Homo sapiens: one gene and its partner. The protein of the gene in region 2 purifies or fractionates together with the protein of the main gene of each other region. This does not show direct contact. Each region holds a gene or a part of one and is shown on either strand. Other genes may lie near its edges.

Region 1 (5,360 bases), on a different chromosome or scaffold from region 2:
GACATTGATGACCAGGCAGCGCAGCCACCAGATGAAGCCTCGGATGGAGAGGTGCTCCCTGGCAAGGTGGGGAACCGGTCAGTCCAGGAACCAAGGGCAGGATTGGCCCCCAGTGACACCAAGACACTCCCTCTCCTCCGCCTACCTACTGAGCCCATCCCAGGCCCTGGAAAGCCTGCCCTGACACCTGTTTGCTCACCAGTAGATGTTCTGAGGGTCAGGGGCATAGGACACGGTCCAGTTGGAGATGTGCAGGGACTCGCTGCAGGATGAGGGGCGTGGCTCCCCACGGCAGGTGCAGCCCTGGCATTTACACACGTTGAAGTCCTTCAGGATGCTAGAAAGATGGGCACTGGTTACCACAGGCCCACCTGGAGGCCACACTGCTGGCAGAAGGCCATGAGCACAGGGGTCAGGGAGCCCTGGAGGGCTGCTCAGGGCCGAGGGCCGAGTTGGGGACTCACATGGCGGTGATAGTCTCATTGTGGAAGGTGACAAAGGCCATGCCAAGAGGCTTCTCATTCACCTTCTCCTTCTCCCGCTTGTAGTCTTCCTTCAGCTTCTGCTCCAGCTTTGTGTAGTACTCAATGGCCTCCACCTTTGTGGGAGGGTTAGGGACAGGGCCTCTAGTTGGAAAGCCAGGCTGGGGCCTGCAGCATCCAGCCCACGCTGACTTGGGGCTTCCTACAAGCCAGGCACTGCTCCTCTAAGCATTTTTTTTTTTTTGGAAACAGCGTCTCGCTCTGATGCCCAGGCTGGAGTGTAGTGGTGGAATCTCAGCTCACTGGAGCCTCAAGCTCCCAGGCTAAAGTGACCCTCCCACCTCAGCCTCCCAAGTGGCTGGGAATACATGTGTGCAGTACCATGCCTGGCTAATTTTTGTATTTTTTGTAGAGATCAGGTTTTGCCATGTTTCCCAGGCTGGTCTCAAACTCCTGGCTCAAGTGATCCACCTGCTTCAGCCTCACAAAGTGCTGGGATTACAGGCATATGCCACCGCACCCAGCACCTCTAAGCTTCTTTATATGTATTACTCACTTTACCCTCACAACACTCTCATAAGGTGGGTACGTTAACCCCATGAGGAAACTGAGGCACTGAGCAGTAAGCAACTTGCTCAAGTCCCCAGAGTCAGTGGGTACAGCACAACATTGTCCTTTTGGCTGACATTTTCTAATTTGAGGTTTGAAAACCTGGTCACTGTAGGGACATTAGACAAACCCAACAGTGGGAACTGAGGCTTCAAGGATTCCAGGGACAGGTGGGGACTCACTGAGGGCAGGGCCCCAGCCTTGCCTGCCCAGGACCTGTCCAACTTCTCCCGACTCAACAGCCAGCCCGCGTCATACCTGCTCACAGCCTCGCACCACACAGCAGCAGAGGTGGCCACAGGGCTTGGGGTTGATCATGGTAGGCACGTTCTCCTTGCTCTGGAGGTTTGTGAAGTACAGCTTTCCCCGCTCGGCCTTCTTCCTGTGGGACCCAGATGCCTGGTCACCTACATCTGGGGCTGGGGCTGGCTCAGCTTGGGGGTCATCTAGCTCACTCCCCAAGGACAGGAGCTGTCTTGTTCTTGTTTAGGATACATGTTTCAGATGTGGCCACATCCCAAGGTCTCCCCACCCATCCCTAGAGGGCCAGAAGTTCTTCCTGCAGGCTGACCTAAATTTCTCATACTGTAGCCAAAGAAGGGCATGTCCTCAGATGCAGTGGGGACCATGGGCCCCCCTTCCCCTCACAACAAACTCTAACCTCCAGGCCTTGCTCTTTCCAGAGCTGAATTAACAGGCACACCAACGAGTTGAATTAAAATCAAATGCCCTAGGAAAAAATCTAGAAGGGGAGCCTGTGTGGTAGCCAAGATGTCCTCCACAATGGCAGGGGGCCCTTGGTGTCACCCTCCTCTGCCCCCAGTCCCTTACCTCTCTGCATCGAGGAACATTAGGCGAGCCACGTTGTAACACGGGCGGGCTTCGAGAACTGTGCAGTTGGGGTAGGCTTCCCTGAAACACAGTTCATGTATCATCTTGTGCAGGGACCCCACCCACCTGCCCCTGACTTTCATCCATGACCCCATCACCTTCAAGAAACACATCTCTGGCTGGACGTGGTGGCTCACATCTGTAATCCCAGCACTTTGGGGGGCCGAAGCGGGAGGATCACCTGAGGTCAGGAGTTCGAAACCAGCCTGGCCAACATGGTGAAACCCTGTCTCTACTAAAAATACAAAAATTAGCTGGGCATGGTGGCACGTGCCTGTAGTCCCAGCTACTCAGGAGGCTGAGGCAGAAGAATTGCTCGAACCCGGGAGGTGGAGGTTGCAGTGAGCCAAGATCGCGCCACTGCACTCCAGACTGGGCGACAGAGCGAGACTCCATCTCAAAAAAAAAGACAAAAAAACCCACATCTCCAATTCAAGCTGCCTTTTTCTTAGTCTACAAAACTGAGAGTTCCCCAAGAATAAAGCTTTGGAGTTCCTCCTCATGCTTATCTGAGTGGGGAAGTGGGAGCAGAAGGCCTGAGCACTGTGTGACTGCAGGCTGGGCTAACAAACCAGGATGTGTAGGGACATACTGCATGCAGGTAGGGAAGCCAGGGCTATGGTCTGATTCCTGTCCAGGGCTGTGACCTTTAGGTTGAAAAAAATTGCATCTAGTCATAGGCTATATAATTCCTTAACCCTGTTCCCAGAAGACCTGGTCACAGCCCAACACTTAGCCTTGACCACAGACTGACCTCAACCAACCCATAACCCAGTCTACAAAATGATCTCTAACTTTGGCCCAAGACAGACAAGAGATTGATCCTGACCCCTGACCAGGGTGAGACTGACCTGTAACCCTGGCCAAAGACTGACCCTTAAGCCCACCCTGGCCAAAGACTGACCCCAGACCTGTTGCCCAGACCCAAGACTGACCTCCTAACCCTGACCCCAGATTCATCCTTACCTTGACTTAAGACTGACCAGAGAGAAACTGGCACTGACTCACTAGTACCTGGTACCAGGCAAGGCTTGAAGAATGCTTGCTGAGTGAAGGAATAGTTCATTTTTTTGTTTGTTTGTTTGTTTCAAATATTCTGAGATGGGGTCTTGTTGTATTGCCCAGGCTGGTCTTGAACTCCTGGGTTCAAGTGATCATCCTGCCTCAGCTTCCCAAAGTGTGGGCATTACACTAGTGAGCCACCATGGCTGGAGGGAATAGTTTCTTTTTGTTTTTTGTTTCGTTTTTGTTTTTGTTTTTGTTTTGTTTTGTTTTTGAGACGGAGTCTCACTCTGTCACCCGGGCTAGAATGCAGTGGTGTGATCTGGGCTCACTACAACCTTTGCTTCCCGGGTTCAAGTGATTCTCGTGCTTCAGCCTTCTGAGTAGCTGGGATTACAGGTGTGTGCCACCACACCCGGCTAATTTTTTTTTTTTTTTTGTATTTTTAGTAGAGATAGGGTTTCAACATGTTGGCCAGGCTGGTCTCGAACTCCTGACCTCAGGTGATTGGCCCGCCCTGGCTTCCCAAAGTGCTGGGATTATAGGCATGAGCTGCCATACCCAGCCTAATAGCTTTTTTTTTTTTTTTTTGAGGCGGAGTCTTGCTCTGTCGCCCAGGCTGGAGTGCAGTGGTGCAATCTCAGCTCACTGTAACCTCCACCTCTTGGGTTCAAGTGATTCCCCTGTCTCAGCCTCTCCAGTAGCTGGGATTATAGGCACATGCCACCACGCCTGGCTAATTTTTATGTTTTTAGTAGAGATGGGGTTTCACCATCTTGGCCAGGCTGGTCCTGAACTCCTGACCTTGTGATTCACCCACCTCGGCTCCCCAAAGTGCTGGGATTACAGGTGTGAGCCACCGCACCTGGCCAGTAGTTCGTTTTTAAATCTGATCATGCACTGTTCTTTGATCCTAATCCTTAATCTAGACTGAGTCCCCATCTTTTTATATTTTATTAAAATTTTTAGGTTGAACACAGTGGCTCATGCCTGTAATCCCAAAACTTTGAGAGGCTGAGACAGGAGGATTGCTTGAGGCCAGGAGTTCATGACCAGCCTGGGCAACATAGTGAGACCCTGTCTCTAAAAAAAGAAAAAAAAATTAGCCAGGTGTGGTGGTGAGTGCCTGTAGTTCCAGCTACTCGGGAGTCTGAGGCAGGAGGATCGATTCAGCCCAGGAGGTCAAGGCTGCAGTGAGCTATGACCACGCCCCTGTATTGCAGCACTCCAGCCAGGGAGACAGAGTGAGACTCTGTCTCAAAAAAAATTGTTTTTTTTTTTAAATGAAGGACCACCAAGTATTGAATGCATGAGTTACTGTTCTAAAGTATTAAGATAGTCCTCATAAACCCATGAGAATTTAGAAACTTAAATCTGGGATAGGGTCCTTGAGATGTACTTCCCAGGAGGCTAGAGACCTTTCCTCTGATATTGTTCCTCAAACCATTTGAGGTTTCCCCTTTGGAAGGGTGAGCTCTCATTCTCACTAAACTCATCTCTAATCCTCTAAATCCAACCACACAGGCCCGTTGATTTGCATGCAAGATATTTCCTAATTGTGCTGAGACAGTCTTCCAATCCAGACAGACTGCAGACTTGGACCACAAGCCCTGCCTAATCCTGACAATGAGCTCAAGCGCTGTCTCTTAGTCCTCACCATATACCCAGCCCTGTCCCAACAGCTTGTATATAGCAGGTGTTCAATACACATGTGGTAAATGAGCGGATCAATGAAATGGCTACTCCATAATGCTCATCCCAGTGATCCAAAAAACTCCAATTAGGACTAGAGTCTCCCTTACCCCTGCTTATAGGCTGACCTCTCCTAAACAAAACTATAGACCAACCCCTGAAACACAACTAGGATCTTCAGCTTCCCAAGGGCACTGATCAGGTCTGATTATACTCTGTCTCCCAGGCATGAAGCACATAGTAGGTATACAATAAATGTGGGCTGAATGAATAGACAGTTGACTAGTAGGGTTCACTCAGGTCTCTGTTCAAATGCCACGCTGTCAGAGTCCCTCCCTGTCTATCCCATCAGAAATAGCAACCCTTCCCAACCCCTCTTACCCTGCCTGCTTCCCTGCTGTGGTTTTCTTAGCACCTACCTCTTCTTGACACAGTCTCTATTACTAGTTCATCCGGTCCCTGTCCACCCCTCCCCACTAAAATGAAAGCAAATGAGGGCAGGCCTTCTGTCGTTTACTGCTATACCCCCAGCTCCTCCCCAAGCAGGCACATAGCAGGTGCTCACTAGATATTTGTATCAAAAAACAAAAACAAAAACAAAAACAACAAACACCAGATTTCAATACAAGCTGACAACTGATTCCAACTGGATGGTAATATTAAGATGTCACCTAATTCATTGTT
Region 2 (5,360 bases):
GGCATACACAACAGTAGAAAAAATATATAAAAGAAAGGAAAGTGCGTCTTACTAAATTTAATAATTAATATTGTTGACATAAAAGTAAAAGGCAAGCTTAACTTTTGAAGGCTGACTCATGAAGAATTTTTTCATTAATCAAACACTGACTACATTTAAGCTATAAAATTTTCACATGGAATACTGAAACAATAATGTACCATGATTCTATCTCTAAATTTATTTTAAATTTAGAGCTTTCATATTTTATAGTTATTCTTTACCAGTTCAGATGTTTCTATATCTCTATATATTCATATAGAATTATAGATTTTATATTCATGTGTAATTAAGTCACAAAACTATGTAAAATAAAATTCTGTGTGAGTGATATGACTGATGACTTCTTAAAATAGTAATCTTCAATTACATATTTTACACCACAAAATGTACAGACACCCAGTTTTTTTCTAACAACAAATACAGGTGAATTTATCGATTCTTTATAAAAGCTTTAAGTGATTCTAAATTCAAAGTCATAGAAATAGAATCAGACTTATGCAGATTGTTAGATAGTTTGATAGTACATAGTCAGTGCTCTGTCTGATAACATCAATAGCTACATCTTTGGCATTGAAAATTCAATATGAGTTTTTGACAAAATTTTGTAGCTTAGAGCATCATTTTCTTTTAAACAAGGAAAAACACGGTTGAGTAAGATATGGAAATTGGGAGAAAACTATTAATGATTTTTTCTTAGTAAGTTTGTCTTTGGGACCCTGAATTACCTTTTATTTTATTGTATGATGTGGACTGTATGCATCCATTTAAAAACCAACTGAGTTGTACCACATTTTAGGAAAATTATATAATATAATATATATATTTTATATTTATTTAGAAGCTTTGAAATAGTACAGTAAACACTTTGCAACACGGTGTATAAACTACAGAATGTCTTTGATATTTTGTGGGTCTTCAGAATACAACATTTTTTATAACCCACAGGTGAAAAGAACATAATCACAATTTCTCTTGTAAAGTTGGAATAGCTTGCGGAACACTTGATCACACAAAAATAATATAAAACAGTCAAGTTTAAAACAGTGATATTGCATTTATAATGCACAAATTTCCTTTATCTTTATGACTGGCTTCTCGTGGTGAATATAAACATCTAAAGGGCTCAGTGACATTTGGAGAGAGAAAGATAGATAGTGCTGTAAACAGGCACACACTGATCGGGGAGGCAAAATCTGTTGCCTCTAAAGTTTCTACAGTTCTGCACATTTCAACTCATTTCTCAGGCCTGCTGAGAGCAATTAGGTCCTATAATTGGCCATGATGACTCCATCCGAAATCTAATACTCAGTTACACATGACTAACTGGATGGCCAAGATAATGAAGTTGAAAAGTTGATGCTTTTGTTGGTCGACTTTGTGCAAATCATGCTGCTTCAGGTAAGTCCTGTAGAATTGACTAGCATATCCTTTTCCGTGCTGTGAAAAAGAAAGAAAAATACTCTAAGAAAAAGAGGTTGACTTTTGGAGTTTAGAATTACACATTATTGTAAAAGAAAGAATACAGTTAGAAACTAGTTGTACCCTCATACCAAACACATGTAGTGTCAAACTTTTTCACTGCTAGTAGTCACAGCCATTCTGTTGTTTGGTTTTCTGAGAATGATAATTTTGATATTCTTATAAATTAGTTTTGCATGGGAAATGTACATTTTATATACCAAAGATGAAATTTGTGAAGATTAACTTTTTAAAGTTATCTACATAAAACAATCCCTACACTTCACTATTTATGCACAGAGTATAGAAAAAAATGTGTGGCCCTTACATTTCTAGAAAAAGTTTCTAGCAAAATCTATAAATAACTTGTTTTATATTTAATTTCATAAACTATAAATTATACATATTAAACCAATATTTATTATGGAAAACTGTACCAGAAAGTGTTTATGTAGTTAAATAATTTAAAGATGACTCACATTTTCTAGGTTTATTTAATCTCATTTATAAAATTTTAAAACCAAGTATTTTTATGGCCCATACATTTTTTTAAAGTATTCTTACTATGAGAATCCATTTTCTCATAAAGGAATTAATAAAGGCAAAGGGGAGAAAGATATTATCAAATTTGCTCTAGTTGTATAAAATATATTAAATTACAAAGCAGAATGCCCAGATTTGATTGCCCAGATTTCATAATTTTAAGTATTTTGTTTATTTGTAATGATAAATAATATTTCTTCCCTTATCCATAAACTTTGTAATATTTGACCATAAGCACAATGAGAGCAGAAGTTGCATCATATCTATCAGTATATGGCACATAACAGACATATAACAAAAATGTGTTGAAAATAAAGCTAGTTGAATTTAGATTAAATTTTCACATATCTCATTAAAAGTTACAAAGTACATTAAATAGCAAAACAATTATTTTAATCTCATAAATGGTTGCTTTTTTTAAACAAAGATAAGAACATGTTGATCTTCTCAACCTTATTCTCTGGTATTTCAACTCATTTCAAGACTATCTAATTATCTATTTATCCTAATTTATTTTTCCTCAAAAGCTCAGTTTCTGACCATGAAACAGTTCTTTACTAGTTCACCATTTAGCAGGCACATCAATCAAAACCATAGCAGTCGGCCGGATGTGGTGGCTCTCGTCTGTAATCCCAGCAATTTGGAAGTCCGAGTTGGGTGGGTCACCTGAGGTCAGGAGTTTGAAACCAGCCTGGCCAACATGGTGAATACCTGTCTCTACTAAAAGTACAAAATATTAGCCTGGCATGGTGGTGGGCGCCTATAATCCCAGCTACTTGGGAGGCTGAGGCAGAAGAATTGCTTGAACCCAGGAGGCAGAGGTTGCAGTGAGCTGAGATCATGCCATTGCACTCCAGCCTGTGAGACAAGAGCGAAACTCCATCTCAAAAAAAAAAAAAAAAAAAAAAAAACCCATAGCAGTCAGGCACCATCATCAACAGAAATGAAAGTGAAAATAAGTATCTACATGTATTGTGTAGTATAATAACTAGTATTGAAAGTAATCAGAACATATTTTGTAATGTATGATATCCAGAAGAATAAAATGAATTCGATACAATATATGGTAGTCATTATAACCAGGTCATAATATTCCAGAGAATATTCTACAAGTAAACGGAATTATTATTTTAATAGAATGAAATCCTATTTTTCTGTGTCCTTGAGTTCAAACTGTTTCATGAGAAACTTATATGTGAAATAATTCAAACAAATTTGTTTACACCAATCAGAATTGAAAATTATACAATAAATTAGAATAGTGAAACCTTAGAAGTCCAAGTTTATAAAACAAATCAGAGCAAATCATTACGGTCACCAAATAATTTGTTGTCTAAACTGGACCCACTGGTGAGTGAAAAGAAACACTATTATTAATTACAAAAGATTTTGTGCTTTCTGGACAACCCAGGAAAATATTGTCACCGACAAATAATATTACTCCTTTCAAAATAAGCTGGGTTGGGGCCTTTCCTGTTAATAGTAAAAATCAGAAAATGCTGATTTAGAGGAAACATTCTTTTCTTAGTTCAAGAACAAAAGAAACTCAGGAGTGACCTATAGTCAACCTATAACTAATTCATTATGTCAAAAAACTAATATACTGAAAAACTATGTTTTAGTATAAATTCAGAAAGTAGTCAACATAGCATATGTTTAGAGTAATAAAAATATCATTTCTAGTTCTTATGGCTTAAAGGCCATTAACATAAATATTATGTGTTCACTTGATTTAGTTAGGATACAAACAGAAATTGTTTCTTTTTAATAAAAGAAATTATTAAAATGGTTCACAGTTTTAAGAACACAGAAGCTTAGCACACATTATACTCAATATCTTAAATATAAACATAAACTTAAAAGACATCTTTTAATTGCTGCTTAGAGTTACGTGTTTTCTTTTTTAAAGTTCACCTATTGTACTTGTTGTCTGAATAATATAATCACCTATTATTAAATTTACTTCCTCCCACCTATGTGTTAATTCAGTAATGCAGATTTGGATAGGACAAATATAAGATCTGAACTTAGATCTGATCTAAGTTCCGAAGGTCAGAATTAATTAGATTGAGGAAGGAAGATTTCCTCCATGTTAGAAGAAGCTAATCTTACATTTATGAAGAGTTATCCCTCAGTGTCTGTGAGGGCCTGTTTCCAGGTTGCCCCCAAAATCGAAGGATGCTCAAGTCCCTTATGGCCTGTAGTGTATGCATATATCCTATGCATGTCCTCCTAAATATGTTAAATTATCTTCAGGTTACTTACAACATCTAATATAATGCCTAACACCAGGCACATCACTTCATTCACATAAATTCAAGGCAGTACTCTGTGCATGGCAAATTCAAGTTTTGCTTTTTGAAACTTTGTGGGACTTTTTTCCAAATATTTTTAATCCACAGTTGATTGAATCCACAGACAAGGAGCCCAAGGATACAGAGGAGCCAAAAATCCTGCCAACCTAGAAATAGTTTATACTATTACTAAAGTTTTAGTCACATCCGCTTTATTTCAAACCTTCTACGGGTTGAGTTTAAACACTGAATAACTATTATTCTTGGCTGGGCACGGTGGCTCAGGCCTGTAGTTCCAACAATTTGGGAGGTTGAGGCGAGCGGATCACTTGAGCCCAGGAGTTTGAGACCAGCCTGACAAACATGTCAAAAGACCATCTCTACTAGAAATACAAAAGTTAGCAGGGTTTAGTGGCACAGGCCTGTAATCCCAGCTACCTCGGAGGCTGAGGAACAAGAATTGCTTGAATCTATGAAGTGGAGGTTGCAATGAACTGAGATCTTGCCACTGCACTCCAGCCTAGGAGACAGAGCAAGGCTCTGCCTCAAAAAACAAACAAAACCTATTATTCTTTTAGGGTTGTATGGCCTAATGTTGGACAAGTAGCAAGCAAATATTATCTGACCCTCCCCACAAAAAAAATATTAATTGATGACATTTTAGAGCCAGTACCAGGACAATTATTCCAGTGTTAAGTAACATGGCTATATATTTGCTGATGCATTTTAGGTTTGACAGAATGAGTCAAATACACAGAGAATCTCTATGCTTTCTAATATATTCTATGTATGTTTTGGAATTATCAAAGCATGCTTGGAGGATTTCTTTTTCTTTTCATTTCACAAAAGCATTTTTTTCTTGTGATGCATCAGCATGTAGGGAATTGGTCACTTGATAGATAGGGAGGTTTTATTTTCAATCAAATGAAATCAGAAGTAATAGGAAAAGGACTGTGTTCCTTCTTAATTTTATTCATTCAGTGCATTTATTCTTCATAGTGAGTCATAAATGCTAGATTAAGA

The links. The genes of interacting proteins can lie anywhere in the genome.
Region 1: the proteins of PCDH10 (region 2) and TMEM63B purify together in Homo sapiens (affinity purification with mass spectrometry; one large-scale study listed by BioGRID and IntAct). This does not show direct contact.

What each region holds. Positions count from the first base shown.
Region 1 is NC_000006.12:44,143,490-44,148,849, reverse strand, and holds part of TMEM63B (mechanosensitive cation channel TMEM63B), read right to left. Parts: intron 2,004-5,360; coding exon 1,923-2,003; intron 1,474-1,922; coding exon 1,350-1,473; intron 599-1,349; coding exon 465-598; intron 338-464; coding exon 200-337; intron 59-199; coding exon 1-58. UniProt on the Homo sapiens protein: Mechanosensitive cation channel with low conductance and high activation threshold. Osmosensitive cation channel preferentially activated by hypotonic stress.
Region 2 is NC_000004.12:133,186,260-133,191,619, reverse strand, and holds part of PCDH10 (protocadherin-10 isoform 1 precursor), read right to left. Parts: intron 1,480-5,360; coding exon 1,460-1,479; 3' UTR 1-1,459.